2 separate regions of the Homo sapiens genome follow, and region 1 is linked to region 2. The links come from fine-mapping of genetic effects on gene expression. A gene starts in region 2. The other region holds a variant in brackets. All regions are shown on one strand. Distances are from middle to middle.

What was found. PIP is the estimated chance that this variant, and not a neighbour inherited with it, causes the effect.
Region 1: its variant is the best candidate, but not a certain one, in a credible set for the expression of NAXD in whole blood (INTERVAL, PIP 0.64).

The regions. Positions count from the first base shown.
Region 1 is chr13:110,627,875-110,642,131 of GRCh38, forward strand. NAXD (NAD(P)HX dehydratase) reads left to right here. Exons shown (of 10, transcript NM_001242882.2): 6 at 6,671-6,721; 7 at 6,798-6,902; 8 at 7,594-7,714; 9 at 9,255-9,375; 10 at 10,504-12,122. The coding sequence ends at 10,654. CARS2 (cysteinyl-tRNA synthetase 2, mitochondrial) reads right to left here. Exons shown (of 15, transcript NM_024537.4): 15 at 13,543-13,734. The coding sequence ends at 13,663. Among named protein-coding and RNA genes, the nearest start is that of NAXD-AS1, 19 kb to the left of the region's middle. RefSeq lists enhancers at 4,692-5,354, 6,349-7,178, 7,179-8,007, 8,838-9,666. The variant A/G (reference allele first, on the strand shown) is at 8,666.
Region 2 is chr13:110,607,791-110,623,449 of GRCh38, forward strand. NAXD (NAD(P)HX dehydratase) reads left to right here and starts at 7,755. Exons shown (of 10, transcript NM_001242882.2): 1 at 7,755-7,857; 2 at 14,426-14,576. The coding sequence starts at 7,812. It overlaps NAXD-AS1 (NAXD antisense RNA 1), which reads right to left and starts at 8,563. Exons shown (of 1, transcript NR_182301.1): 1 at 5,292-8,563. RefSeq lists enhancers at 2,523-3,023, 3,024-3,524, 6,836-7,763, 8,665-8,714, 8,735-8,784 and silencers at 7,965-8,214, 8,225-8,384.

The DNA.
Region 1 (14,257 bases), 19 kb after region 2:
GTATCTCCCAGGCCACCCCCTTCTTGCTGGGGGATCCTGGGGTTCCCTCAGCCTCCTGGGCCGTTGTTCCCACACAGCCCTGGCGCCATGCTCTGCTGACATCAGGCTGTGAGGTGACACGGGCCTGCTTGTCCGTGCCCACATGCATATGCGCATGGACTCTCATTTATGCTGGTATTTCTTTCTTAAAGTTCATCTTATGCCCACCTAAATCCAAAAGATGAAAGTTATTCTGATCACTTTGTGCCTGCTGTAAATAAATACCACCTGGGATCAGGGGCGATAAAAAGATGGGGATGGCTGCCAGCTCTGTGTTCCCTGCGTCCTCTGACGCTCCCTGGGCTGGTGTGTCTCTGCTGGGGGTTGTGCTCCTGTGGGGCTGCCCTCTGAGACCCTTTCTCAAGTTCCGGGGGACCCCTGTTAGAGCTCCTGGGGGAAGACACAGTGTGCCAGATGGCTTGGTGCCACAGGGTGCTCACATGTGCAAGGCGTGGTGACTGCATGGGGATCAGAGGCCGGGCATTAGTGAGGGACTACGCTTGAAGCCCTTAGAAGGTGCCTGGCCATTTTGTGTTCCCCAGATCAGCAGTCACCCTGAAAATGCCAGCCATCTGCATGGCACTCTGTTGGGTGCTTAGTTAATGGAGGGGTCTCTGAGGCTGCGGGGCTTGAAGGCGGCGAGTGATGGAGCCAGCAGTGCAGGATGAGTCATCTGAGGGGCAGGCAGACGCAGGCTGACACTGCACAGACCAGGAAAAGCGGCGTGGAGTCAGCACGGGAGCCCGTCTTTGAGCTTTAAGGTCTTACCCGCTCACCGGGAAGGAGGAGGTGGCCATGTTTAGGAGCAGTAGAACCCTCTGTCATCCCCGGGGAGAGGCTCTCAATGGGGAGTCCCATCTGCAGGCTGCGGGTCTGCGGTGCACGGCTGCTGCTTCCTGTCCAGCTCTGCATCCTGGGGGTGCGGATGAATTAGAGGTGAACGAGCCAGAGTGCTCTGCTTCAGGTTATTTTCTTTGTGAATTTAAGTTCACAATTTAAAAACTGGTATCTTAAAAAACCACTGTACTGCGTGGAAGTGTGAAAGGTGGGAAGTGAGGGTGTGCGTCGCTGCCCCTGCAGCCCAGACTCTGGACCTTGCATTCTGGTTCCTGTACACTGTTGCCGTGGTCTTGAGAGCCCTCAGGTCATCTAGCGTGGGCTGCCGCCTCCTCGTCAGCTTCCAGCTCGTGTCTGGTGCGGAGCAGAGGCTTCCTACTTCGTCGACGTTCCTGAATGAGGTCATCATCTGGTGTAGGCCTGAAAACAACCCGATTAGGTAGATTCCTATTCATAGCCCCATTCTTCTGATGACAGATTGAGTCCTGGCAAGGATTCAAGACGCCCGTGGGATCTGGTAGCAAAGAAACTGCAGAGATGGTTTTTTAAAAACGACTTTATTTAGATGATTTACCTACCATACCCCTCACCCATTTAAAGTGAACTATGCGGTGGCTTCAAGTATATTCATAGTTGTGCAACCATCACCATGATCAACCTTAGAATATGTTTATTGCCTCCAGAAGCAGCCCATCCCCGTTAGCATCTGCTCCCTGTTCCCCAGTCTCCCCAGTTCCTGGCAGCCACTCAGCTAGTATGCTTTCTGTCTCTCTGGATTCGCCTGTTCAGGACATTTCATATGAATGGAATTATGCAACGTGTGCTATTTAGTGATTAGTTATGTCACTCTGCATAATTTTATATTTAGAGTTACCTGTGTTGTAGCATGTATCAGTATTCCATTCCTTTTTATATCTAATATTTCACTGTATGCATACACCACCTTTGGTTTATCTGTTGATTAATTTATGGAAAATTGGTTTCCACTTTTTGTGTGGATGTGTTTTCACTCTCCTGGGTGTTAAGTGTTTCACATTTTGAGGCCCTGCCACTGTTTCCCATAGCGGCTGCACTATTTTCCATTCCCTCTAGCAGTGTGCGAGGGCTCTGATTCTCCACATCGTTCCCAGCACTTGTTACTGTTGTTGTCTACTTAGCAGCCACTCTAGTGGGCGTGGAGCGACCTCACTGTGGTTTGGTTTGCGTTTTCCTGGCAGCTGATGCTGTTGAGCATCTTTGCATGTGCTCATTGGCTGTTTGGGTATCTTTTTTTTTGTTTTTGTTTTGTTTTGTTTTTGAGACATATTCTCACTCTGTCACCCAGGCTGGAGTATAATGGCGTGATCTTGGCTCACTGCAATCTCCACCTCCTGGGTTTAAGTGATTCCTTTGCCTTGGCCTCCAAGTAGCTTGGACTACAGGCGCCCACCATCACACCCAGCTAATTTTTGTATTTTTAGTAGAGATGGGGTTTCACCATGTTGGCCAGGCTGGTCTCGAACTCCTGACCTTAGGTATCCGCCCGCCTCAGCCTCCCAAAGTGCTGGGGTTACAGGCGTGAGCTACCATGCCTGGCCTCTTTGGGTATCTTCTTTGGAGAAGTGTCTATTCATACCCTTTCCCCACTTTGAAAACTGTTTTTTGCCTTTTTTTTATTGACTTTTAGGAGTTCTTCATATACGTTCTAGACACAGGTTCCTTATCAGAGAGACGATTTGCCGATATCCTCTCATTCTGTAGGTTGTCTTTTCACTTCGATGGTTTTGTTTACAGCACAGTTTTTAATTTTGAAGTCCAATTTAGCTGTTTTTTCTTTTGTCCCTTGTGCTGTTGGTGTCTTATCTCAGAAGCTTCTGCCTAACCCAAGGTTTACTCCTACATGTTAAGAGCCTTATTGTTTTGGTTGTTACTTTAGCTCTGCGGTGCATGTCGAGCTGATGCTGGTGTGGTAGGAGGAGGCTCCAGCGTCAGTCTTTTGCTTGTGGGTGTCCAGCTGTTGCAGCACCATGTGCTGGAGAGACTCCTTTTTCCTCCCAACTTGTCATCCTCCCTGACAATCCGTTGACCCTAAATGTGAAGGCTTATTTCTGGACTGTTGTTTCTGTTTTGTTGATCTGTACAGCTGTCCTGCAACTGCCCGGTCTTGACTGCTGTGGCTGTGTAGGAAGCCTTGACGTCGAAAGCCCGAGTCCTCCAAATTCGCTCTTTTTAAGGTTGTTTTGGCTCTCCTGGGTCCCATGCATTCCAGTTTTGGATCAGCTTGCTGATTTGTGGAATAGGCAGCCGCAACTTTGGTAGGGATGATGTTGAAACTGAAGATCAGTTGGGGGAATGTCTAACAACATTAAGTCTTCTGGTTCCTGGGCTGGCTTTGAACCCACGTTGTCTGAATCTGGAGCGCAGGCTCTTGACCAATGCACCTGTCCTCACACTGTGCTCTTTGCACACTCGTTAACAGTGTGTCCTGGAGACTTTTTCATGGAAGGATATGTGGATACTCATTATTTTTAACAGCCACATCAGAATTTATGGATCTACTACAGTGTATTTAGTTCATTTACACTGTTTTCAGCTTTTTCTTCATGTTAACATCAGTGGTGTCCTGAATCTATGTGTTTTGTGCACTCTTTTGGGTGAAGTTCCATTGCTGAATCAGAGTAAGGACGTTTAAATTTTTGAGAGATGCCCCCAGATTTCTCCCTAGTGTACCAAGGTTTGCTTTCCCATGGGTGGGGACACCCTTCTGCGCTGGGTGCTCTGATGCTGCAAACCTTTCTAGGAGACCCATGTAACATTGCATTTTCCAGGGTTTGAATATTCACTTTTGAGTACTATTTGCAAATACATTAAAAGAAAACACAGAAACAGATGAAAATGTCAGATTGTTGCCAAATACTGCAACATGAAATCAGAAACTGATCTAAAATCTGAATTAGCAAAAGCCTGCCAGTTTTAACAGTAAAGCCAAACTCAGGGCAAGCAGACAAAGAATTTTTATTGTTAATAAAGGGAATAATAAACTTCCATGAAGTCTCAGGTACCTGCCTCCCTGGAAGGGGCTTCAGGACACACTGCTAATGCTCGGACCAGTGTCAGAGCCAAATACACACTTTCCTATGGCTGGAATGTGCGTCATAAACAGGCTGAAATGAGCACTTTGTTAGGCGAGCAGCTAATGCTTTGTCAGCTTTCAAATTTCATTTAATATACACGGCTTTAGTTTTCAATACTTTAAATTATTCTTAGCATGTATTTTTATGTCCAGAATTGGTGGGTTCTTGGTCTCACTGACTTCAAGAATGAAGCCGTGGACCCTCGCGGTGAGTGTTACAGCTCTTAAGGTGGCGCGTCTGGAGTCTGTTCCTTCTGATGTTCAGATGTGTTCGGAGTTTCTTCCTTCTGGTGGGTTCGTGGTCTCTGTCTCAGGAGTGAGGCTACAGACCTTCGCGGTGAGTGTTACAGCTCTTAAGGCAGCGCGTCTGGAGTTGTTCGTTCCTCCCGGTGGGCTCGTGGTCTCGCTGGCTTCAGGAGTGAAGCTGCAGATCTTCGCGGTGACTGTTACAGCTCATAAAAGCAGTGTGGACCCAAAGAGTGAGCAGTAGCAAGATTTATTGCAAAGAGCGAAAGAACAAAGTTTCCACAGCGTGGAAGGGGACCCGAGCGGGTTACCAATGCTGGCTCGGGCAGCCTGCTTTTATTCTCTTATCCGGCCCCGCCCACATCCTGCTGATTGGTAGAGCCGAGTGGCCTGTTTTGTCAGGGCACTGATTGGTGTGTTTACAATCCCTGAGCTAGACACAAAGGTTCTCCACGTCCCCATCAGATTAGTTAGATACAGAGTTTCGACACACAGGTTCTCCAAGGCCCCACCAGAGCATCTAGATACAGAGTGTCGATAGGTGCACTCACAAACCCTGAGTTAGACACAGAGTGCTGATTGGTGTATTTACAAACCTTGAGCTAGATACAGAGTGCCGATTGGTGTATTTACAATCCCTGACCTAGACATAAAGGTTCTCCAAGGCCCCACCAGAGCAGCTAGATACAGAGTGTCGATTGGTGCATTCACAAACCCTGAGCTAAACACAGGGTGCTGATTGGTGCACTCACAAACCCTGAGCTAGACACAGGGTGCTGATTGGTGTGTTTACAATCCCTGAGCTAGATATAAAGACTCTCCACATCCCCACCAGACTCAGGAGCCCAGCTGGCTTCACCCAGTGGATCCCGCACCAGGGCTGCAGGTGGAGCTGCCTGCCAGTCCTGCGCCGTGCGTTCGCATTCCTCAGCCCTTGGGTGGTCGATGGGACTGGGTGCCGTGGAGCAGGGGGTGGTGCTCGTCGGGGAGGCTCGGGCCGCACAGGAGCCCATGGAGGGGGTGGGAGGCTCAGGCATGGCGGGCTGCAGGTCCCGAGCCCTGCCCGGCGGGAAGGCAGCTAAGGCCCGGTGAGAAATTGAGCACAGTGCCGGTGGGCTGGCACTGCTGCAGGACCCAGTACACCCTCTGCAGCCGCTGGCCCGGGTGCTAAGTCCCTCATTGCCCCGGGCCAGCAGGGCTGGCCGGCTGCTCCGAGTGCGGGGCCCGCCAAGCCCACGCCCACCCGGAACTCCAGCTGGCCCGCAAGCGCTGCAGGCAGCCCCAGTTCCCGCTCGCGCCTCTCCCTCCACACCTCCCTGCAAGCTGAGGGAGTGGGCTCCAGCCTTGGCCAGCCCAGAAAGGGGCTCCCACAGTGCAGTGGTGGGCTGAAGGGCTCCTCAAATGCCGCCAAAGTGGGAGCCCAGGCAGAGGAGGTGCTGAGAGCAAGCGAGGGCTCTGAGGACTGCCAGCATGCTGTCACCTCTCATTTTGTTTAATGTTTTCTATTTTAATGTTTTGTATTATCAGGTGTCTGTCAAGTCAGGATCACTTTACATGCTACTGCAGTGTATAATCTTGTCACAATGTATTGGCTCATAATAATAAAAACCACCAAATATTACATATATGTGTGTGTATCTATACATGTAGTTTTTTTTTTTTAATAGAAAACCTTTGAAACCTTCACTGTAATCCTATCAGGGAAAAATGATTCCCTGTTTATTATTGTTGTTATTTTAAAACGTGTAAGTAAAGTGATATGAAAAATACATAATGACTAATGATTTGGGGAATTCTCAGGAATTCAGATTTCCTGCCTCCGAATGCTGCGTATTAGTATCTGTTGGAGAACTGGATGCCCTTGCTGGGGCGGGGGCTGTCTTCATGGGTTAGCCTAGGAGCCCAGCTGTTGTTCATAGCGTTTCCAGTGGGCTTCGCCTTTCAGAGTTCCCAGTGTCCTGCCTTGTTTACGGGCTCTGCGAGTTCATTGGGTCTTTCTGCTTCTCTATTTTATTCATTTACTTGATTATTTTCCATTTATTGTTTGATGGCCTGATGTTGCATTTTATTAAGAGTCTGCTCAATTTTCTGTCACTCTTGGGAAAAGTGTCTTAGTCGGTTTTGCGCTGCTGTAGCCGTACCACAGACTGGGTAATTGATAATGAACAGGCGTTTACTGGCTCACAGTTCTGAAGGTGGATGTCCAACATCAAGGTGCCGGCATCTGGCGAGGGCAGAAGGGCAGGAGAGAGACCCTTATGCCTCTTTTAAAGGTCATTAAACCAACCCATGAGGACACTGCCACATCACCTTTTAAAGGCCCCACCTCCCAGGACCCTTCCCTTGGCAATTAAGTTTCACCATGAGTTTTGAGAAGACACATACCCACACCATAGCAGCAGGCATGGTGCTCAGTCTGGTTTTCTCTTCTGGCAGGGCATTTTGGAAGTGTCAAAGGCCAGGGACATCCCTGTTGTCATCGACGCGGTGAGTTGACTTCTCTCCTCCTGGCTCGGACTCCCGGAAGGCCTGTGCAGTGAGCACGGCTCCTTGTTCTGTGCAGGATGGCCTGTGGCTGGTCGCTCAGCAGCCGGCCCTCATCCATGGCTACCGGAAGGCTGTGCTCACTCCCAACCACGTGGAGTTCAGCAGACTGTATGACGCTGTGGTGAGTCAGTGGACCCCCTGGAGGGTAGATGCAAGCCCTGTTCGTCCTGAAGAGGGTGAAGGACGAGCTCCATGCTTCTGCCCAGCCTGTCCCTGTGGACACACCTGCAAGTAATCGCTGTGCCTCTCCCAGCGGATGGCGCGTCTTCCCATTAATGCGCTTGGATTGGATGAACGATGGTGTAGTGGGCTTGGGACAGGCAGGGACTCGGGTCAGTCAGCCCCTCCTGCAGTGCACTCTGGACAGGTCACTTTGTCTGTGTCCTGAGTGCCTCATCTGTAATGTGATGATGGCATCAGCTTCACGGGGTTGTGAGGATGAGATGAGGAAACCTATGTAAAGCCGTGAGTCCCCACATGGTAAGTGTCCCATCAATGTTAGTGCCCAGTACGACTGGAATTTGTATTACTCCTGCAAAGCTCTCAGAACCCAGTCTTGGGTGGTCCTCCTTCAGCCTGCTCTGATGAGGTAGAGGATGGGCACTGGAGCAGGCACCGTGTCAGCACCTGCTCGGAGGACTCACTGCAGGTGATATCCTGGGCATCCTCCCACCTACATGGCCTTTAACAGGTGCCTGGGTGATCCCTTTAGACACGAGAGCATGAGTCTCATGGCGGATGGGACAGGGCTATCTGTCGTCGTGTGTCTGAGGAAGACTTTGCTTTTTCTCTGTCTTCCTGTGTTGTCATAGCTCAGAGGCCCTATGGACAGCGATGACAGCCATGGATCTGTGCTAAGACTCAGCCAAGCCCTGGGCAACGTGACGGTGGTCCAGAAAGGAGAGCGCGACATCCTCTCCAACGGCCAGCAGGGTGAGTGGCGGCTGCCCTCTGTGCATGGGCCAGTGCCAGGTCAGTCAGCATGGCCACACCGAGCATGAGCCCTGGAAGACCTCTCCCGTGCACACCCGTGTTCACACACATTCACACAGGGATTCCTGATGAGCTCGTCAACCACACTTTCTTCAGAGTCCATGTTTTGACTTTTCACTGTTTTGCCAGGGGAGGTGACAGTGGTGAGGGCAGGCTTTCGAGCCGTGGGCCTTACCCGTTGGTTGAATTCCCTTGCCTCAGTTATGAGAAGCAGTCTGGCGGGAGGGTGCCTGCAACAGCAGGGCACAGTGCAGGGTCCCGCGTCTCCAGCTGCCACCTTCATCTCACCTGTGGCATCCACCATCCATGCAGTTATTTGGGTATTTTATTGCATTTCATTCTCTTTTATCAAAATGACTGGAAAGTGCAGAAAGCCCCGAAGCTGATGCTGGTAGTGGAATCTCAGGCACTGAGTGTGGCGAGTCTCAACTGGCCACTCCCACGGAGCCTGGGGAGGCTTCAGCAAGAGCCAAGTGAGAGCAGGGCAGAGGCCGGGCCCAGCGCCAGCGAGGCATCTGGGGAGCCGTGCCCTTGTTAGCGCTGAAAATGGAAGCCCCTCCATTCAGGCCTGGACAGATGATGGGCAGCGAATGTGCTCACCTGCTGAGCTGTGGGGCTGGACTAGGTACCAAAATCAGGGTAGAACACTGAGGCGTCTGTGGGCGGGTGTGTGCACATCCACACTTGTACACTCACATTCACATGCACATATGTGCACACGCATGCAATTCATACACATGCACAGTTGTGCTCACAGCCTCGCACGCCCTTGCACACTCGCACTTATACACATGCATGGTCATGCTCACAGCCTCGCACACGCCCTCGCACACTCATCCACACACAGCTGTGCACAAGGAACACAGAGCAGATGTTCTCAGAGGGACTCTG[A/G]CACCTTTGAGATGAGGGTTTTTTAATCACTGGAAGGCTCTCTTGGGTCTAACAGGTTCAGAGAATGTAACACCTGGTTTTCAAAACATTTTTCAAAGAAATAGAGAATTCCCATACACAGGCATACGTGACGTTATGAGGCCGGTGGAGGCCTCGCTCGGTGTTGCCCTGTATGGTTGAGCTGTGGTTTAAGGTGAACTCTGGAGTGTGGGCTGCAGGTGAGGGCTCCGTCCCTGGGAGCTGGTGGGAGGAGCTGGAGGCTGGCGCCGCCCTGCTCAGAGCTGCCTGCTTGGGCTCGTCTGAGGCGGTTCCGAGCTGCAGGTGTCTCCACCAACCTGCTGTGCTACACAGCGGGGTCTGGGGCAGCCTCACCACTGCGTGTCTTGGTTTCCTCTTCTGTAAAACAGAGGCTGCCTCCAACCCTTGGAACAAACAGGGAAGAGCCGTAGCAGGCAGGATGTGAGTGGAGCCTCAGGCTGCTCCTGGAGGGTGTGGCTCTGCCTGCCGTGCGGCCTTCCACACCCGTGGCTACTGTCACATTCACACACATGGCCATGCTGACACCTGCTCTCACTTCTGCCCTGTGCAGTGCTTGTGTGCAGCCAGGAAGGCAGCAGCCGCAGGTGTGGAGGGCAAGGGGACCTCCTGTCGGGCTCCCTGGGCGTCCTGGTACACTGGGCGCTCCTTGCTGGACCACAGAAAACAAATGGGTAAGGCCACGTCTTCATTTATTCTACTTTGAAACCGTCTGATTTTTCTAAGCTGTTTCAGTAGCTCATGCGTTGAATAAGTAGCCCTGGAAACACTGACAATGAACTCTAGGCTTCACTGGAGAGATCTCGGCACAGACGAACCCTCTTGGCAGAAGCTTCCACCCCACACTTGGGCCTGGGCCTGTCCATCATTCACTGTGGATGGGGCCTGGGGCAGGGGTGGTCTTCAGAGCTCTCCAGAGAGTTCCGAGGTGCAACCAAGGCCCAGCAGCACGCTGTTCTGGGAAGTTGAGTGGTTTATTCTGTGTAACACAGAATACTAAGATAGAAAACAGACAGGGTCAAGGCTTACTTAGACACTTGTTCTTAAAGATGTGAATTTTCTTTAAGAGACAGCAGAATTCTAGGACCAGGGCCCTTGGCCCAGTTCTGTAGTCAGAGAACTTTATGAATGCAAGCAGTTCCCATACCTCTAAGCATCTCCATTTCTCTTCTGTGAGCCCATCAAGGTGGTGGCTGCAGGTGCTAGGTGTGGCAGACCCGGGCTTCTGGAGGGTGGGCAGGGCTGTCATCCAGTGGCCTCATGTGTCCTCATTGCCGGGATGGCAGAGTCTGGGACCATCCCCCAAACTAGGTGTGTCCACATGAATTTGAGAGCCGAGGAGGTAGGGGTGTGGGCAGGAGTCTTACTGTTCATTCTGCTGTGTTCACTCGAGTTGCCTCCACCCCTCCCCCAGGAGATGGAGCCCTGGTAGCAGGAATCCCCATTCTCAGACCTCAGATGCCCTCTGCACCTGGGCACTGAGAGCACAGTCAAACAGGGCTAAGCAGCTTGTGCCGCCTGGCTTTCCCCGGGAACACCTGGCCCACTGTGTGCCCTAGCCCTGGACCTGTCTCCGAGTACATAGACGTTTCCTGTGTGCCTCCTGCCAGGGAGTAGTGGAGGGTTAATGGTGGTTTTCGCTGTGATAAACCTGCTTTCTCCTCAGGGGCATATCAGACTTGAAATTGACAATTTGGGGTCCTGAGATTGAAACAGGAGTCAAAACCAGAGCCCAGGGTAGCTGCGGCCCCCGGACCACGACGCCCACTTCCCCACACCTCCTGCTGTCCCCCTCTCCGCAGGTCCAGCCCTCTCCTGGTGGCCGCGTTTGGCGCCTGCTCTCTCACCAGGCAGTGCAACCACCAAGCCTTCCAGAAGCACGGTCGCTCCACCACCACCTCCGACATGATCGCCGAGGTGGGGGCCGCCTTCAGCAAGCTCTTTGAAACCTGAGCCCGCGCAGACCAGAAGTAAACAGGCACCTTGGACGGGGGAGAGCGTGTGTGTGATGGGAAAATCCGGACCCACGCGTGTGCTGAAGGCGTACGGTGCTTGCCAGATTTTCAACTTGAGCATAAATTGGTTGCCATTGAGAATTTAAGAATCTGGAATATTGCAGCTTTTGGTTAAACTTAATGCATGGTTGGAGATGTTATGGCGACACTAAACAAAGTATTCCTGAACTTTCCTTAGCTCCTTGGTAGTAACTGGGAAGACAGAAATGAAGAAAATCACATGAGAATGAAGAATTCTTTAGCAGCTCAACAGAGTTTCTCGGCCTGCTCCCAGATCGGCGAAGTTTCTACTTGTTACTCTCTCTGCCGGCGCCCTTCGTTCCTCCTCTGCTTCCCTTCCCTAGTCTTTCCTCCGGCAGGGAGCTGGGCAGGGGTCCCCGGGTGTCTCCCTGAGTCCCGACTGCACTGACTGGGTCCATCAGAGGGCTGCTTCGTTCTCCAGCTCATCTTCTTTTAAAGTGGTGACTAGCTTGGTGGTATCTGGCTGCTGGTGTTTGGCTTATTGACATACTCCAGGGTAATCAATGATGACTTTGTTTGGAAACCCTTTTGGAGGCACCATGGGAACAGAAGGAAACATGAGTGACGCTGACCCTTGAGTGTGTGGGTGGGGAGCTCTGAGACGCCTCCTGTCCCACGCTCTCCGGTGTCCGTGTCTACACAGGGGTCCCCATGATACCCACCGGCCCCAGCAGGGCAGACCGGACCGGGGACGGGCACGGTGAAGGGCTGCAGCCTGGGGTCTGACGTGGCCCCTAGTGCTGTCTCAGGAGAAGGCTCTGGAGGACTTGAGGCATGCTGGGCCTGGTGCAGTGATGGCGCTAAGGAGACCCGGGGAAAGACAGTATCGTGGTCACGTATGCTTAGGAAGCAGCACAGCCGTGTCCTTAGGGATGTTCGCGTCCAGTAAAGACACTGGTAACTGCGGTTTCAGCCAACACTCTTCATGGCAGTGTCGACCTCGGGTTAGCTTCTGTTGTCTTTGTGGATGGTTTTCCTGGAGCGGCCTGACGTTGACGTGTTCTCTGGTCCCATGTCTTAGCGGGGCATGGTACGGTTTCGTGCCTGACGCGTGCATTAGGGTGTTCTCTTATACTTTCAGTAGCATCTTTCCACAGCAAGGGCCAAACCCTCCTGGTTCCCTTCAGAGTCTTTTTGGCCTGATGATGACTCTTGAGTGATACCCTGTGATGCAGACATGCCCCAGATGGATTCTACTTTCTTTAAAACTAGGGACTTTCAAGATTAAAAAAAAGATTGTCACTACTAATTTGACGCCTAACTTCAGAAGCTTCACTGTCTACATGTGAACTTTTCCAGAAAAACTGTGCCATGGACATTTTTCCTCTGGGGAATTAACATCTAAATTCTGGTAACTATTAAAAGACAGATCTGGTTAATTTAAATTGAGTATTGTATTTTTTTCCTTAAACAGCTAAAGCTCACCTTTCAACTTTCTTAGGTGAGGACATTGTGTGAGATGCCAGGGAGATAAGAATATCTAAGCCTGTCTGTGTGAGATTGGCCTCCTCGCCAGCGCCTCTCCCGTGGTGGCTGCAATAAAGCACCTTGAAGGATAAGCCCAAGGCAGCCCCTTCTTTCCTTAGGAAATAGAATTCAGCAGTCACAGGAACTATTCGTCTGGTTTTTGTTCTAAGTAAAACATCCCTTTGCTTAAAGGAGAGAATGGGTTTTTTTACAAGCAGCTCATTGCTTCCATGTTCTTTCTCAAACCCACGTATTTCACGCACTCGCTCCAGCCGGACACGCTCCCAGGAGCTTCCCTGGACCAGGAGAGCAACGGGAAAGTGTGGGGGGGTGGGCGGCCCGTAATGCCCCAGTACTGAGCAGCCCTGTCGAGATGCCTCATTGTAAGGAGCCCTCTGGGGACTTTTTCTATGTGGGTAGCTTTACTAGGGTGATTTTCTAGGTGAGTGACTTCTGAACTGTAGACAGGAGACCTGTACCTCAGGGTCACGGTTAAATGATGAGCAAGCCCGTATCCCCAGTCACGGGTCCCGCTGCTGCCTGTGCCCTTGGGATTCAGAGATGCCAGTGTGACAGGGAGAGGCCTGGCCCAGGGTCTGCGAGCAGGAAGAGTGGAGAGGGGTCACCCTGCTGAGTCACTGACAGCTGTGGCGCTGGGCTTACCACAGAAGGGTGAGATCAGGAGCAAGGTGGGTGCTTCAGGAGGCCACCGGTCCTGTAGCCCAGGCAGCCTGCCGTGTGCTGGCCGCCACCTCCCGCTCAGGAATCCTGTCTGTCACAGCTCGCCAGCTGGCTTTCAGCCTGGCTGCCCTGACTCCTCCGGAACCAACCTTTCCCAGGCCCAGCTCGACCCCATCACTGCTCTGCACAGACCATGACCACCAAGATGGCCTGCAGCTGCCAGGATGTTAACTGCAGCGGGACTGCAGACGGGTTCTCAGCTGCATTTTTCCTATGCTGAATACGTTACTTTTGTAACCAGAGAGAAAACGTAAGATTGTGTTCTTGCTGGGGGAGGTGTCCCGGGGTTAGCATTGCTGGCGTCCCACCTCTGCTTCAGACTATGCTGCGTGGCCCACCCACCTCACCCATCCCCAGCCCCTCCCTCAGGAGGAAACAGGCTGCATTCTGCCGCCTCCCGGGGTCCCTGCTCTTCTGTTGGCTGTGTTGTCTGTTCCCTGGGCACAGGGCCAGCAGGTCTCACGCACAGGCACGTGTGCTGCTGGATGCTACTGAATGTCTGACACTACTTCACTCAATCGACGGTGAGTCTGTAGCCACAGAACGCAGTGAGTGTTTAGGCTCAGTTACTAACAAACAGACGCCAGTGGGACACTGTTGGTTGCCTTACTTTAATGCTGACCTAGCAGCCCCGACAGGAAGCTTTAACATAAAGCCTTGACCCTGAGAAGCATGGGTGCGTCTTGTCGTGAGCAGGTTCATGGCTGTGCTCCATCCTCAGCCCGCTGATTTTTGGTCTTTTGTCCTTTGATCCAGCAGTTCCCACGTGGATGTTGTACTGCTTCTGTCCTGGAGAAGAAGAGTGAGGTCCAACTCTGAGCAGACACCACGTCATGTGGCACAGGGGGCTGACAGGCGTAATCAGGTTCAGGGTGCCTGTTCCCTCACCGGCCTGTCCTAAAAAGCTTGCCAGGCGCTTAGAAAGGGCCCCACTACCTCCAGCAGAAGGCCAGGAGCTTCAAGGCACCTGCAGGAGGTGGCGGGGGCTGAGCAGGACCCACGTCCCCGTGCTCAGCGTCCCCTGCAGCCAACTTGGCCCCTCCCTCACGGCCCTCCCACCTCATTTTTTATGGGGGTGGGTTTCTCTACTCAGAAGCATGGGCAGGGCGCAGTGGCTCACGCCTGTAATCCTGGCACTTTGGGAGGCTGAGGTGGGAGGATCACCTGAGGTCGGGAGTTTGAGACCAGCCTGACCCACGTGGAGAAAACCTGTCTCTACTAAAAATAAAAAATCAGCCGAGCATGGGAGTGCATGCCTGTAATCCTAGCTACTCAGGAGGCTGAGGCAGGAGAATCGCTTGAACCTGGGAGG
Region 2 (15,659 bases):
GCCTTTTCTCTGTTGAGAAGGCCTGAGATGGTAACTCAGCCTTTTTGTCAGCTCTTGTAACTTTTTTCTTCTGGTTTCAATTTTACTGTTACGGCCTAAGGCTGAAATGTTTTATCTTGAAGGTCAAAACAGAAAACATTGTTTTCCTCCGTTCTGTACTCTAGGCTTTTTTTGATATGTCTAAATTTTCAGTGTAATCAAGAAACTTCTCATGCTGTTCCTAAGAGTCATGTATTCCCGTGGTATGCTCATAACCTTGAACACACTCTTCCTGTGTCTGATTAAATTCCAGTACTTTTTCATCAAACTTGACTTCCAGGTTATCTAAGTGGGCTTCTCATAAGGAGAAGCAGTCACTGCAGATTTTTCTTTGCTTTTTTGGTAACTGGCTTAAGAGACAAGATTTTATAATTCTCATGCTGTCTTTATTAGGTTTTTGATTGCAAAATCTGAAATGTAAAAGGGTCAAGGTTTTTACATCCGTATTACCTTCTGTATTGCCTTTAAAGTCTTTTGATTATCACTTTTGTTAAGTAAGTAACTATTATTTTACAATGACCTGTGCTTCTGTTTGGATCAGATGTTTTGAGCCTTTTAACATCTTTAATAAACGTCCTCAAAATCAAAATCCTAAATTAAGTCTCTGAGGTGTCTTATTGCTGGGGCTTATTAAATCTATAAAAATTAATTGCTGCAAGGTTGTAGAACTTTTTTTTTTTTTTGAGACGGAGTCTCGCCCTGTCACCCAGCCTGGAGTGCAATGGCGAGATCCCGGCTCATTGCAACCTCCGGCTCCCGGGTTCAAGTGATTCTCCTGCCTCAGCCTCCCGAGTAGCTGGGATTACAGACACGTGCCACCACGTTCCAGCTAATTTTTTGTATTTTTAGTAGAGACGGGGTTTCACCATGTTGGCCGGGCTGGTCTCGAACTCCTGACCTAGAGATCCGTCCGCCTCGGCCTCCCAAAGTGCTGGGATTACAGGCGCGAGCCACCTCGTCCGGCTGTGAACATTTTTACAGCTTCCAGTCAGACCATGAACTCCACTATCACCACCTCTGGCCTGATAATTACATTTACTGGAAGCAAATCAGCTGAAGAACTCCCTTAGCCCCTTGAGGGAGTCCTTATCGGGGTCTATTAACTAATTTTCGTGCTGTTAAGTTGCAGGGCCTTGACTCCTGGGTACACATGTCGCATCTGAAGAACGCACTGACTCCTACCAGAAACTGACACCAAACTCAAGATGACCAAAGCCTCATCTTTAGACCTGGGCAAAGGTGACACTCAAAGTAAACTGCTTTCATGAAACACAGGGACAGGCCTGTATTCAAATACATTAAGGTTCATTTAGGCTGGGCGCAGTGGCTCACGCCTGTAATCCCAGCACTTTGGGAGGCCGAGGTGGGTGGATCCACGAGGTCAGGAGATCGAGACCATCCTGGCTAACAAGGTGAAACCCCGTCTCTACTAAAAATACAAAAAATTAGCCGGGCGTGGTGGCGGGCGCTACTCGGGAGGCTGAGGCAGGAGAATGGCGTGAACCCGGGAGGCGGAGCTTGCAGTGAGCCGAGATCGCGCCACTGCACTCCAGCCTGGGCGACAGAGCGAGACTCCGTCTCAAAAAAAAAGGTTCATTTAATAATTTTGCCTTTATTTGAAATAATGTAATATTTATTCTATGCCTAGATACTAAATAATTTAAAGGTTTAATTTTTTTTCTATCATTTGCAAAACTAGGCAGGGCTTGTGACCTTTTTGTTTAAAATGTTTTTAGCTCCTTGCGTTTGTTGTGCCTCCAGAATTTGAACTATACAATCCCTCCAGGCCCAGCATAAGATTGTAAGGGCCAATTCTGAGGAATAAAATTAATTCAGATCCTCCAACTGAATTAATGGATTCAGTCATTAATGGTCACAGAGATGCCTCAGCAGCTTAACAAAATGCTTGTGTTTTGTATAGCTAATTGCTACAAACCAGATTATGGTGGCTCAATGCACATAATTTATAAATAAGTCAATTATGTTACCTTGTCTTTTGGCTTTTGGTTTTTGGTTCTTATGTTGCTTAAAAGAGATTCGAAGGTTAATGAGTGCCTGCGCACTTCCATTCCATTTGGCTTAGAATAATTAATTGGTTATAAGTCTTTTGACTCTAAGTCCCTTAGCCGTAGGGGTCCCACTGAGGGACATGATAGACCTGGCACAGGTAGCACCCCCCCCCCCCCCCCCCCCCCCCGGCATCAATATGGGACAAAATAAAAGCTTGGCCATTGACACTGCCTCTGGCATACCTTTACAAAAAGCGGACTATAAACTAAAAAAAATCTGCATCCTCCCTAGTAGAATGGACACGCCTCTTGCCCAAAGGGGATCCAATTAAAAAAAAAAAAAAAACCTGAAAAACTAGTTCAGGCCATGATGGAAAGCTGGGGGTCAGACACGCCTCACTCCACTTTCCCCCATGCCTTGGAATTCAGGCACAAATGACCAGGCAAAATGCCTTTGCACCCTCGAAAAGAAAAACCCTCCTGCTGATTTTATGTGGGATGCTGTTAAAGCTGCTGTACCTTCTAGTACCTGGTTTTTACCACTTTTGGGCCCGTTAAGGGTGAGCTCATCGTTAATATTTGGCCCATGCATATTCAACTTGCTTGTAAAGTGCCTGTCTCTGGTTACAGCAGATCTAGGTAAAGGTGATCTTCAAGCTAGGGTTCCAGCTGCTTCCTGTCTTGGAATCAGACGCTCCTGCTGTCCCCTGGGGACCCTTAGATCAAGCAGCTGGAGATTCCCATGCCCTCGGTAGGCAGGGCCAGTGCTCTTAAATCAGCAGGAAGATGACACGGAAGACTGACCTCCTCCCTCATCTCCCTCAAGAATAAGGGATGGAATGGCTGAGCACGGTAGGTGGCTCATGCCTGTAATCCCAGCACTTTGGGAGGCCAAGGTAGGCAGATCGCTTGAGCTCAAGAGTTTGAGACCACCCTGCACAACATGGCAAAAACCCATCTCTACCAAAAATACAAAAATTAGCCGGGCGTGGTAGCACACACCTGTGGTCCCAGATACTCAGGAAGCTGAAGTCTGAGGATCGCTGGAGCCTGGGAAGGGGAGGCTGCAGTGAGCCATGATTATGCCACTGCATCCCAGCCTGGGTAACAGAGTGAGACCCTGTCTCAAAAAAAGAAAGAAAGAAAATAAATAAAAGAAGAAGGGATGGAAATCTCCAAGGGGGAAAATGAAATGGGAATAGCACTGGGTGGTCACAGGAGGATGGAAAAACCCAAACAACAGCTAGAATAAGAACGAGGCAAAGAAACCGCAGGTTAACAGAAAACCCAAAATAAGGAAGAGAAAATGGTCAAATCCTGGTCAGGGTGATATGTCCATGATCCTGGGAAAACTTGAATAAGGGTAAAAGTCTGTGGTAATGGGGGGAGGGAGTCCCTGAAATCACTCCTTTTCCAGAATACCTTATGATTATTCCACCCCCTAATTAAAAAAAAATCCATAAAATTAGAAACTCAAACTCTGATGTGACTCACTCTGCTGAGCACGCCCGCAATTCTCTTTTACGTGTGTGCTTTCGCTTTGCAGTAAAAGCTTCTTGCCTTTCGTTTCATTCTGACGTGTCCCTGAATTCTTTCTCATGCTGGTGTCAAGAACTTGGAAACTGGCTGGGGCTGGGGTCTCAGTGGCATCCAGAGACCCTCCGGAGACCTCCGACAGCTGTAGGTGATTGGGGGCGCCAATCACATAGGGGTCGGAGAGTGATGGAATGCACCTTAATTTTAATCTGAGTGTCATGGAAAACAGTTGGATGGTTCTATGCAGAGGAGTGACATGATCTGACTTATAGGAAAGATCATTCTATTGCTGTAGGAAAGCAGGGAGGTTAATTTATTAACAGAAGGTATTATGGGTTGAGTTGTGTCTCCTCAGAATATGTTAAATCCTAACCCCTAGTACCTGTGACTATAACCGTAACTGGAAGTGAGGTCTTTATAGATTATTGAATTAAGATGAGATGAGATCATTAGGGTGGGCCCTACTCCAATATGACTGGTGTCCTTAAAGGAGAGGAAAATCCCACGTGAGGACAAGGAGACCATCATGTGATGACAGAGGCAGAGGCTGGGGAGGGTGCCAAGGGCATTTTACAGTAAACCTGAAACACTCGTTCAGGCCGAGATGGAAAGGGGGGATGGATGCCTCATTATACCCTCCTCCCTTTGGAATTCAGGCACAGTTGACCAGCATTAACGTTAAAACAGAGACCTTAAGACTGACAAAGCAGAATTTTTGTAGCAATAAGATACCAATGTGACAGATTGCAAGCCCTGAAAGAAACTGGAGTATTTTACCCCAAATATATTCATTTGGCATATTTTGAAATAGCCTTGCAAAACTGTCTCTTTGGGGAAAAACATCTACATTCTGAGGAGACTCCCCTTCCTTTTCCAGGTCTTTTTCTTGATCCAGGAGATAATTTACTAAGAGTCCGGCACCTGAAGTTTGATAAGAAACATTTACAAAGTCCAGGTGAGGTGGGCCACACCTGTAATGCCAGCACTTTGGGAGTCTAAGGCAGAGGATCACTTGAGGTCAGGAGTTGGAGACCAGCCTGGCCAACACAGTGAAACCCTGTCTTTACTAAAAATACAAAAATTGGCCGGGTGTGGTGGTGCACGCCTGTAGTTCCAGCTACTTGGGAGGCTGAGTAGGGTGGATCGCTTGAACCTGGGGGGCAGAGGTTGCAGTGGGCCAAGATTGTGCCATTGGACTCCAGCCTGGGCAACAGAGTGAGACTCTGTCTCAAACAACAACAACAACAAAAAGAAACATCTACAATTCATTCTCTTTGAAGCCTGCTACCTGGAGGCCTCATCTGCACAACCCCTTATCTTAACCCAGACACTTCCTTCTACTGATTCCAAGTCTTTAAGTAAACTTTCTACCAATTGCCAATCAGAAAATCTTTGAATCCACCTATGACTGGAAGCTCCTCTCTTGGAGTTGTCCCACCTTTCTGGGCTGAACCAACGTACTTCTTACATGTACTGATTGATGTCTTCCGTATCCCTACCATGTATAAAACCAAGCTTAGCCCGACTACCCTGGGCACATGTTCTCAGGATCTGCAGGGGCTATGTTACAAGCCATGGTCACTCATCTTTGGATCAGAATAAATCTCGAATATTTTAGAGTTTGACTCTTTTCATTGACACTCATGCAGCAGACTATTGCCATCATCCAGGCCACACACTGTTAAATGGAAAAACCTTAGACACGTGTATGTTTTAACTGAGTGTATTTGAGCAAAACAAAACAGATTCCCGAATGGGGCAGCCCTCCAAACCAGAGCAGATAAGAGAACTCCAATCAGGAACCTGATCTGACAGCACCTATAGGAAACAGAAGTGTGTGATGGAGACAGCTAATTTGATTATAACTTCATTGCTTAACTGGTTACAGAGTTTCCTGCCATGAAGTAAAGCTCAGTTACTGTAGTTAAACTCCTTACTGGTTTGGTCTGGTAGGTGTAGTTCAGGGTTTCACTCTGTTATCAGAAAGGGGTTCCAATCCAGACCTCAAGAGGGTTCTTGGACCTTGTGCAAGAAAGAATTCTGGGCGAGTCCATAAATTGAAAGCAAACTTATTAAGAAAGGGAATAAAAGAATGGCTACTCCATAGGCAGAGCAGTGGCACTGGCTGCTTGACTGAATATACTTATGAGACTTGAAGCCAGCTGGACTTCCTGGGTCGAGTGGGGACTTGGAGAACTTTTCTGTCTTACAAGAGGATTGTAAAATGCACCAATCAGCACTCTGTAGCTAGGATTGTAAAATGCACCAATGAGCGCTCTGTAGCTAGCAAGAGGATTGTAAAATGCACCAATCAGTGCTCTGTAAAACGCACCAATCAGCAGGATCCTAAAAGTAGCCAATTGCAGGAAAGATTGAAAAAAGGGCATTCCGATAGGGCAGAAACAGAACATGGGAGGGGAGAAATAAGGGAATAAAAGCTGCCCCACCCCCCCACCCCCGCCAGCCAGCAGCAGCAATCCACTTGGGTCCCCTTCCATGCTGTGGAAGCTTTGTTCTTTTGCTCTTCATAATGAATCTTTTTTTTTTTTTTTTTGAGGTGGAGTCTCGCTCTGTGGCCCAGGCTGGAGTGCAGTGGCCCGATCTCGGCTCACTGGAAGCTCTGCCTCCCAGGTTCACGCCATTCTCCTGCCTCAGCCTCCTGGGTAGCTGGGATTACAGGCGCCCGCCACCATGTCCGGCTAATTTTTTGTATTTTTAGTAGAGACAGGGTTTCACCGTGTTAGCCAAGATGGTCTCGATCTCCTGACCTTGTGATCCACCCGCCTCGGCCTCCCAAAGTGCTGGGCTTACAGGCATGAGCCACCACGCCCGGCCTCTTCATAATAAATCTTGCTGCTGCTCACTCTTTGGGTCTATGCCACCTTTAAGAGCTGTAACACTGTGAAGGTCCGCAGCTTCATTCTTGAAGTCAGTGAGACCATGAACCCACCGGCAGGAACTAACTCCACACATAGTTATAGTTATCTCTTGATTATAGGCTAAATAAGGAGGGGATTATTCATGAGTTTTCTGGGAAAGAGGTTGGCAATTGCTGGAACTGAGGGTTCCTCCCCTTTTTAGACCATATAGAGTAATTTCCTGATGTTGCCATAGCATTTGTAAACTCTCATGGCGCTGGTAGGAGTGTCCTTTAGCATGCTAATACGTTATAATCAGCAAATAATGAGCAATGAGGACACAGAGGTCACTTTTGTGGCCATCTTGGTTTTGGTAGGCTTTGGGCCAGTTTCTTTACTGTGTCATCTTATCAGTGCGGTCTTTGTGACCTGTATCTTGTGCCCACCACCTCATCCTGTGGCCAAGAATGTCTAACCCCCTGGGAATGCAGCCCAGTAGGTCTCACCCTCATTTTACCCAGTCCCTATTCAAGATGGAATCGCTCTGGTTAAAAGGCCTCTGACATGTTGAGCCATCCTTTCACCTCAGCCTCTCAAGTAGCTGGACTACAGGTGTGCCACACCATCCCCTGCTAATTTTCCAAAAAAATTTTGGTAGAGAAGGGGGTCTCCTTATGTTGTCCAGGCTGGTCTCAAACTCCTGGGCTCAAACGATCCTTCCATCTTGGCCTCCCAAAGCATTGGGATCACACGCGCGAGCCACCGCACCTGGCCCCACAAGTTTCTTTTAGCACCATGACGGTGGCTTCAAATAGGGCGGCAGTGGAGGTAAGAGGCCATCAGCCACAGGAGGAGCGTGGGTGGGAGGGCAGGAGAGGTCAGAATGCCTTCCAGGGGTTTGGGCCTCAGCGTTGGAGTGATGGAGCTGCCCTGACCTGAGACGGTGGAAAGCGAAGGGGCCTCGCAGCGAGCTGGTTTGGGGTTCAGGGCAGAGGTTGCGCCTGGAGCAGAAAGGCACCTGACTGCTATACTGGGGGCACATAGTGGGCCTCGGCACTCCACCTGCCAGCAAAATCATTTTCTATAACGCCGCAAGCCTAAAAATGGGCCGATAAACACAAACCAGACCCTGAACCAGATCGTTGTTAACTCTTCAACCTGCCTTCCAGCCGAACCTCTTAGGCCAGAGCTGGGACCAGGCCGGGTTGGGCGTCGCGCTTGTCAATCATCTAGAACCGGGTGTGATTGAGCGAGTTGGGATCCCACTGCCGACAGCCGCGCGGAGGCGGTCGGGAAACCGGAAAACGCTTCCAATGGCTGTGTTTCCGGCGACGGCGCGGGGGCAGCTGGGAATCCGGAATGCTGCCCGATGGCCCTGGGTCCTCGCTGTGGGGCAATCCGGGCTTGCAGACGAGGTAAGGTCGATTCCATTTGGCCCGGGGATGGTCACACGCGCGGGGGCCGGAACTGCCGTCGCCGGCGCGGTCGTTGTCGCATTGCTCTCGGCCGCACTCGCGCTGTACGGGCCGCCACTGGACGCAGGTACCCGACCGCTGACCGCCTCTGCTGGCTCGCGGGGGGGAAGCGCCGCCGAGGGGCAGCCCGCGCGCGGGGCCGGGGCGCCGTGTGGCCTGCGGGGCGGAGTAGGGAGAGGACGGAGGCCTCCTGGAACGGCGCGGCGACGGCTGGGCGCGGCTTGGGTGATGGGAGCCTCCGTGCGGGGTGACAGAGGGGCAGAGGGTGGCGCCGGGCCGGAGCCAGTGCGCGTCCCAGGAGCGGCGGAGCCCGCGCGGTGGCCGGGGAACGGGGGGCCGAGGGCCGAGGACGGTAGGAGGGCCCTGGGGCGCCGTGGTGCGCTGGTCGGATCCGTCTGCTCTGCTCTGTCCCCGCTCCCGGTCTGGGAAAGATGCTCGCCAACTGCGGGCTTGCTGTTTGGTCGGAGCTGGATACGGGGGCCCTCCTGGGGCCCAGGGACGCGGCGGGCGTGCAGGCGAGCTGGCCGGCTGAGCGGGCTTCGCGCACACCAGGAGCAGGGCCGTGTCTGCATCCCCAATTTGAAGTCCCAGTGCGACTGGGCAAGTACAGACCCTGCACGTCCTTGGACGAGAGGGACTGGATATTGCGACGCCTGGGCCGCAGAAAAGGACTCCACCAGCCAGGCCTCCTTCGCCCGCCCCCGGTTCGGGGTGTGTGTGTGCGTGTAGGAGGTCCCTTGGGGAGGGAGGCTCACCTGAGTCATCCCCAGAACCTGAAGTGCTGGCCAGATGTCCCCGAGGGCCCTGCCCTGGCCTTGGCTGGTCCTTGCACGCTGAGATGCCTTTTCAAATAGAACGGATAAGGTAGAAAGAATTTAAACAGGAGCTGAGCAAGTGCTTGGAGCCCCATCTCTTCATAGGGTTTTTTTGTCTTTCTGTTTGCCTTGTTGGTATTGGTGTATCTAACATATTTTATACAGGAAGTAGTTCGTGTATATCTCATTTCTCATAAGGAGAGATTGCTGTTATCCACCTTGGTATAGAAGATAAATAGAAGCTCAGAGAAAGTGACTTAGCCAGGATTCTCCAGCCAGTGAGTGGCCGAAATGGTTAAACGCACCATTTGTTGCTGTAGTCATTAGATAGATTTTACCTTGTGTGTATGTTGGGCATCGTCAGAGAGTTTGGCTTTTTGTTTTCATCAGCACACACTGAGAATGCACTGGGTGGCGCTGAGAGGGTACTCTACACTGCACCTCACTCACACCAGCAGGGAGGCTTCTTAACACTTTATTTAGAGATTTATTTGTAGCTCTTTACCTTAAATTCACACACCGTGATTAGTAGCAAGATTTTTCATTGCGCTTGGTTGAGGATTTATTATCAGACTGCCTAAACTTTTACGAAAAGCCAGGTAGAGTTGTATATTACTGAGGCTTTAGGAAATATTTCAGTTAACTTAGGGATTGTGGTTAAATGCTCTAAATTAGTTATAACTCACATTAACTTAAAGTATTTTTGTTTTTTTAAGTAGAATTTTCCAGTACTAAAAGCACTTTTAGCACAAAGCAGCAGTGATAGTCTTCCCCAGACACGCTTCCTTAAAACAAAAGCCAAACAAATTTAACCTGTTCTTCCAGACTCAGAATTGTCTGAAGAGTTACCGAATGGGATACATCTTAAGTCGCCTATTGTCAAGGCCTTTTTATCCTTCAGAACTTTGATCTTTATATGTAAATGTTTCTGTGTTAACATTTGAAATGTTAAGTTCAAATGGTGACGTCAGTAAGCCAGCTGGAACTTGCTTCACTGCCAAGTGCTGGGAAGTTTAGTTGACCTGCTTTGGCCCTTTTGCTAACAGAAGCTGTTTATCTTAGGTGAATGCTGGTGAGCAGCCTGGATTTTACTTTGTGTTAATACAATTCTATTCAAGTGAAAATGCTATACTTCTTATTTTGCCTTAAAATGGCAGCATTTTACACCTACTGTGTGCCCACAAAAATAAAAACAAAAACATGGCAGCACTTTGGTAAAATAGTGTCTTGTGGCCTGGCTTGTCCATTACTAACCACAGCATCTGCACAGGTTTCTCTCTGGGCCCCAGTTTCCTTATCTGTAAAAGAAAGATAAAGTGCTAGTGAGGAGAGTGAATCACGATGTCTTGACTTCATCGAACATGTATCAAGTGTCTTGTTCTGTGCCAGGCTGTGTTCGAGGTGATTGAGTCCCACATGGAAGCAGTCAGTGCTGCAGCTTGCGGATGGTGCCACATTCCTCGTGGGCAGGCAGTAGTAGGGTGCTGATTCTCTGCCAGTCCAGACATAAGAACTTCCTTCTTATGTCCAGGTCAGCCCCTACCATGTAGGTTGTCTGTGTGCTCGAAAGGTTTCAGAACCCCACATGTAATAATAGTTACTTTTGGTATCACTTTGAATTTTTAAAATTATGTAGCAAAAAAGTTACTATTAATTATATTATGAGTTTAACATAATTTTAAGCTAGCTTCCATTTGAGAGCCGTTGTTCTCATGTGTAAATCTTGAAATATTCAGTTTCTGGATGGCGCTTCTTGTTCTCCAGGGTTCTTAGACCCAGCCCTTACGGTAGCATCATGGCCAGGGAACTGGGAATCTCACAAAGTCTTAAGATTTCACAACGGAACAGGAGCAGGAGGAGGCGACTCCCGCTGGTGGGTTGATCAAGTTGCTGTGAAGGTGGTTTGCACATTTTGGGCTTCAAAACACTACCTTCTGTATAAGATAAAGGAATAGCTCAGAACAGGATTCCCCCCGTGTTTTCTTCCTAGCTATGATAAAGATTGCCGTGTGAATGCAGTGGGTTTTACACACTCAGAATTGATATTTTTGGCTTGTGGTAAATGGGACTTTAATGCTTAACCTGCTGTAGAAAAATCCGCCTTAGAAAGTGGCCCTTATTCGTATATTGTATTCGATGTTTGAGCCCCCTGATATCTTATCATTTTAACAAAGCTTACCTTGAAGTGCAGGAAAAATTGTATGTGTTCTTGTCATTATTTGAATAACAACAAAAATCAGTATTAGCTTTAAAGCCTGTAGGTTTTAAGCGTATCCTTGCCTGGACTAGCATATCTCCTCTTTCTCAACCAAAAAGATCAGAAAGGTGCTATCCCAGTACCAAAAGTACTGGGAGGACTTTCAGCAGAGTGTGACGCAGAAGGGAAGCTTTTCCGCTCTGGGGAGCAGATGCGGAGAGGACAAGCACTTGGAACACAGCATCCCTGGGAGCTCTGGTGCTGCAGTTGTGACCCCGAGGCGGCCCTGCTGTGCCCTCCTGGGAGTGCTGGGCGACACTGGTTGCAGAGGGGCATTGGTGCTCCCCTCCACCTGACAGGTGCTCCACCTGGACTCGTGGCTGCAGCTTAATTTTGTGTCAGATCCTTTCCGGTAATGTATAGGTTATTTCAACTATGAGGCAAAGTGCAAATGGGTAGTTCAGTGTGGGTTTATGGTATTTGCCCTTTTTGATATAAACATTAAATATTTCATACCTCACCTATAGTACTTTTTTTAAGACTTAAATCTGAAATTTAAGATACAGATGTTTGTAAGATATGAATCTTGGATATTGGGAGAAAGAAGCCTCCTGGAAAATATACAGTATTATCTGGTGGAACCATTTTATTCCTTTTCTTATTGTGAGAAATACACATTTATGAAGTATTACCATTTAGGAGTTGTTTTCATCAGGCAGGGTACATTGATATAAATGTTGATTTTTAACATCCGTAAGTTGAAGTCTGACTAAATTGTTTTTCTCTGTGATTTCATAAGTCACAATTTATATTTTATATGACCTTAAATATTTAATTTGAAGTACTGGTATATTTAAAGGTGCTAAAACTACACGCATGCATCTCTACTAGTGGTTCTTAACCCAGGCTCATTTTGCCCCATCCAGAAGACATTTGGGAGTGTTGAGATATTGCTGGTTGTCACCACTGGGTGCGTGTACATGCACTGCTGACTGGGTAGAAGCCGGGGATGCTGCTCAGCATCCTTCAGTGCATAGAACAGCTCCCCACGACAAAGACAGGATGCTGATCGATACCCATAAATGTCTTTTTTTTTGAGACAAGAGTCTCGCTGTGTCACCCAGGCTGGAGTGCAGTGGCATAATCTTGGCTCACTGCAGCCTCCACCTTCTGGGTTCAAACAGTTCTTCTGCCTCAGCCTCCCGAGTAGCTGGAATTACAGGCATGCACCACCGTGCCCAACTAATTTTTGTATTTTTAGTAGAGATGGGGTTTCACTATGTTGGCCAGGCTGGTCTCGAACTCCTGACCTCAAGTGATCCACCCACCTTGGCCTCCCAAAGTGCTGAGATTACAGCGGGGAGCCACTGCGCCTGGCCCCATAAATGTCTCTTCTAGACAAGTGTATTGTTTTAAAACCATAATTTAGCCCTCCTGGAGGGATTTCAAGGATGGGTGCATTGGTCCCCTGCAGGTAGCTCAGCAAGCTTCATTGTGTCTCTCCTTGGCCCACAGTTTATAGTGATTCTGTGCCGGGTCTTGTGTGTTGGTCTGGAAGAAGGTGAAAAGATTTGGGGTTGGGCTGAGCGCGGTGGCTCACACCTGTAATCCTAGCACTTTGGGAGGCCGAGGTGGGCAGATCACAAGGTCAGGAGATCGAGACCACCCTGGCCAACATGGTGAAACCCCGTCTCTGCTAAAAATACAAAAATTAGCTGGGCGTGGTGGCATGCGCCTGTAGTCCCAGCTACTCAGGAGGCTGACGCAGGAGAATTGCTTGGACCAGGGGGTCGTAGGTTGCAGTGAGCCGAGATTGTACCACTGCACTCCAGCCTGGCGACAGAGTGAGACTCTGTCTCAAAAAAAAAAAAAAAAAAGAATTTGGGTTGATGGGGATTCATAGGATCTTTTTATCTTGGGGAATCCCAGCATCTGCTCTATCAGCTAAGGCAGTTACATCTACTCATAAAGAAAATTCCTTCAAAAGTTTTGTTGAGTAAAAAGTAAAACTGTAAGAGTTAAAAGACAAAGCTCTTTTGCTGTGAAACGCTCAGTGAGCTTTGGACTGCAGTCAGTGGAACTTGTGACACTGGTTTTTCTCTGCTGCTGAGATAATTGGAAGGATAAAAATATTGAGTGCCTTGTTTGAAAAAATACTGTTTATATTTGCAAAGATCCTTTCATTCTAGGGAGAATGTATGCTTTATTCATTGAGCTCTATAGAACATACCAGCATTTCTCTCATAGCCGAGCTGTTTTAAATATTAAGGTAAAATATATAACACAGGAAGCTCTTCAAGAAAGGCCAATTGAAGTGTAGCTGTTTAGAGACAACTCAAGATGATGAAAATACATTAAATGCCACTTTGAACCCAATTTAAGAGGTGTGCCATATTTAGAATGCCATTTCTAGGTTATTTAATTAATACCCAGTTGAGTGTTGGAATACAGTTGGGAGTAATATGATGAATCTGTCAGACTTCTGAGCACCCCAGCGGATTACAGGTGGGAGCTTGCTTTCCAGTTTGTGAGGAGAGAAAAGACCTAATAATCCTAAAGGGAAATTGAAATGAAGTGATAGTTTATTAAGTAATAATGCATTTTTTTACTTGATAAAACTTTCTGGAAAATTAAATGGTCTTCCAAAATTTCAGATACATTTCAAAAATAAACCTGATAGAAATAGCATATGTTGTCCTGGTGGGGTGGCTCATGCCTGTAATCCCAGCACTTTGGGAGGCTGAGGCGGGCAGATCACTTGAGGTAAGGAGTTGGAGACCAGCCTGGCCAACATGGTGAAACCCTGTCTCTACTAAGAATACAAAAATTAGCAGGGCAGGGTGGCAGGTGCCTGTAATCCCAGATACTCCGGAGGCTGAGGCAGGAGAATCGCTTGAACCCAGGAGGTGGAGGTTGCAGTGAGCAGGATCGTGCCACTGCACTCCAGCTTGGGTGACAGAGCTAGACTCTGTCTCAAATAAATAAATAAATAGCATGTGTTACTATATGTGTTAATTACATGTGTTCAGGCTGGGCATGGTGGTTCACGCCTGTAATCCCAGCACTTTGAGAGGCTGCAGCTGGCAGATCACTTGAGGTCAGGAGTTCTAGACCAGCATGGCCAACATGATGAAACCCTATCTCTACTGAAAATACAAAAATTAGCCAGGTGTGGTAGTAGACACCTATAATCCCAGCTGCTCAGGAGGCTGAGGCAGGAGAATTGCTTGAACCTGGGAGGCAGAGGTTGCAGTGAGCTGAGATCACGCCACTGCACTCCAGCCTGGGTGACAGAGTCAGAGTTCGTCTCAAAAAAGAAAAAAAAAATTGCATGTGTTAATGTAATTTTGAACATCATATTTGCTTACAGAAATCCATTGGGTAAAAATCTATAGCATTCGTAATAACTTTGGAGAGGGTTTTGGTTAATGGGCTATTATGTGTACTAACAATATCTGTTTACCTTTCTGAATTATTCATTTTTCTTGTCTTTCAGTTTTAGAAAGAGCGTTTTCGCTACGTAAAGCACATTCGATAAAGGATATGGAAAATACTTTGCAGCTGGTGAGAAATATCATACCTCCTCTGTCTTCCACAAAGCACAAAGGGCAAGATGGAAGAATAGGCGTAGTTGGAGGCTGTCAGGAGTAAGTAGCTGATGTGCAGTGTTGGTGTTTAAAAAGTCAGTTGCTGGCTGGCTGCTTACCTGACTGTCATTCACGCTGTCTAGTTTGACCTCAGTAATCATTTCCAAATGCAGCCTGATAGGACACTCAGTATTTTTCAGTGATCCACTTTTTGATTAACTAGGAAATAACTCTGAGGAGCCCTGACTGAATTACTCCCTCATGTGTGTCAGTGTTAAGTTTTGTCGTAGTGGGGAAATGAGCCTGTTTTTTCCACTTTCTGCTTTTCTGTATTTAACTGGACTTCATACCACAAGCATGTTTTTTGTATTTAGGATAGAAACACTCAGCAACCTCTTGGTTTACTTTGTCAATTTAAAGATGTTACTGAAAGTCATTTATGAAATTTGACAAATCCCTAGCTTGCTTCTGTTCTGTTTTGCTGCTGTGTTTGGTACGTAGCTGTTTGTAAGTTGTCCTTGGGTGTGAAGGATACCTTCTGCCTCTGACGGAAAGCCTGCCGTGGCTCCTCTGTTTCTGCTTGCTTTCTGTTTGCATGGATGTGGTATCTCTCTTTGCCCATCCCTCCATTTGCAGCTGTTGATCGTGCCATAGGGTGTGTTAGAGTTGTTACTGGATCAGGTATGTGTGCATTTTACATGCTGGTGACGCTGCCGAATTGTCCCCCCATTGCGTTAGTGTGTGTTGCCTCCCAAGAGCACCTGTTCCCTGCAGCCCTTGGAGGACAACCTTTGCTAGTGAAGTCGACAAGCTTTCTTGTTGTTTTAATGCATTTCTCTTATTAGTGAGGCTTGTTTTCACATGATGGAAGAGTGTGTGCATGTATGTTGCCTGTTCTGTACTGTCTTTTGCATTTACAACGCTATTGACACCGCTTTGCAGGAGAAGGCCATGTAAGGTGATGGGTATCAGCATTTGCCCAGGTCTCTCTTTCTTGGGTTAGCAAAACATTTCACTGCTCGGAATGGACATAAAGGTTGCATTTGCCCATCTGACGGAGGGCAGGGCTCTTCCTTTCTGTGCCTGAAGTGCCCTTAGACCTGGAGAGCCAGGGATTCCAGAACAGCCAGGCGGAAGCAGCTG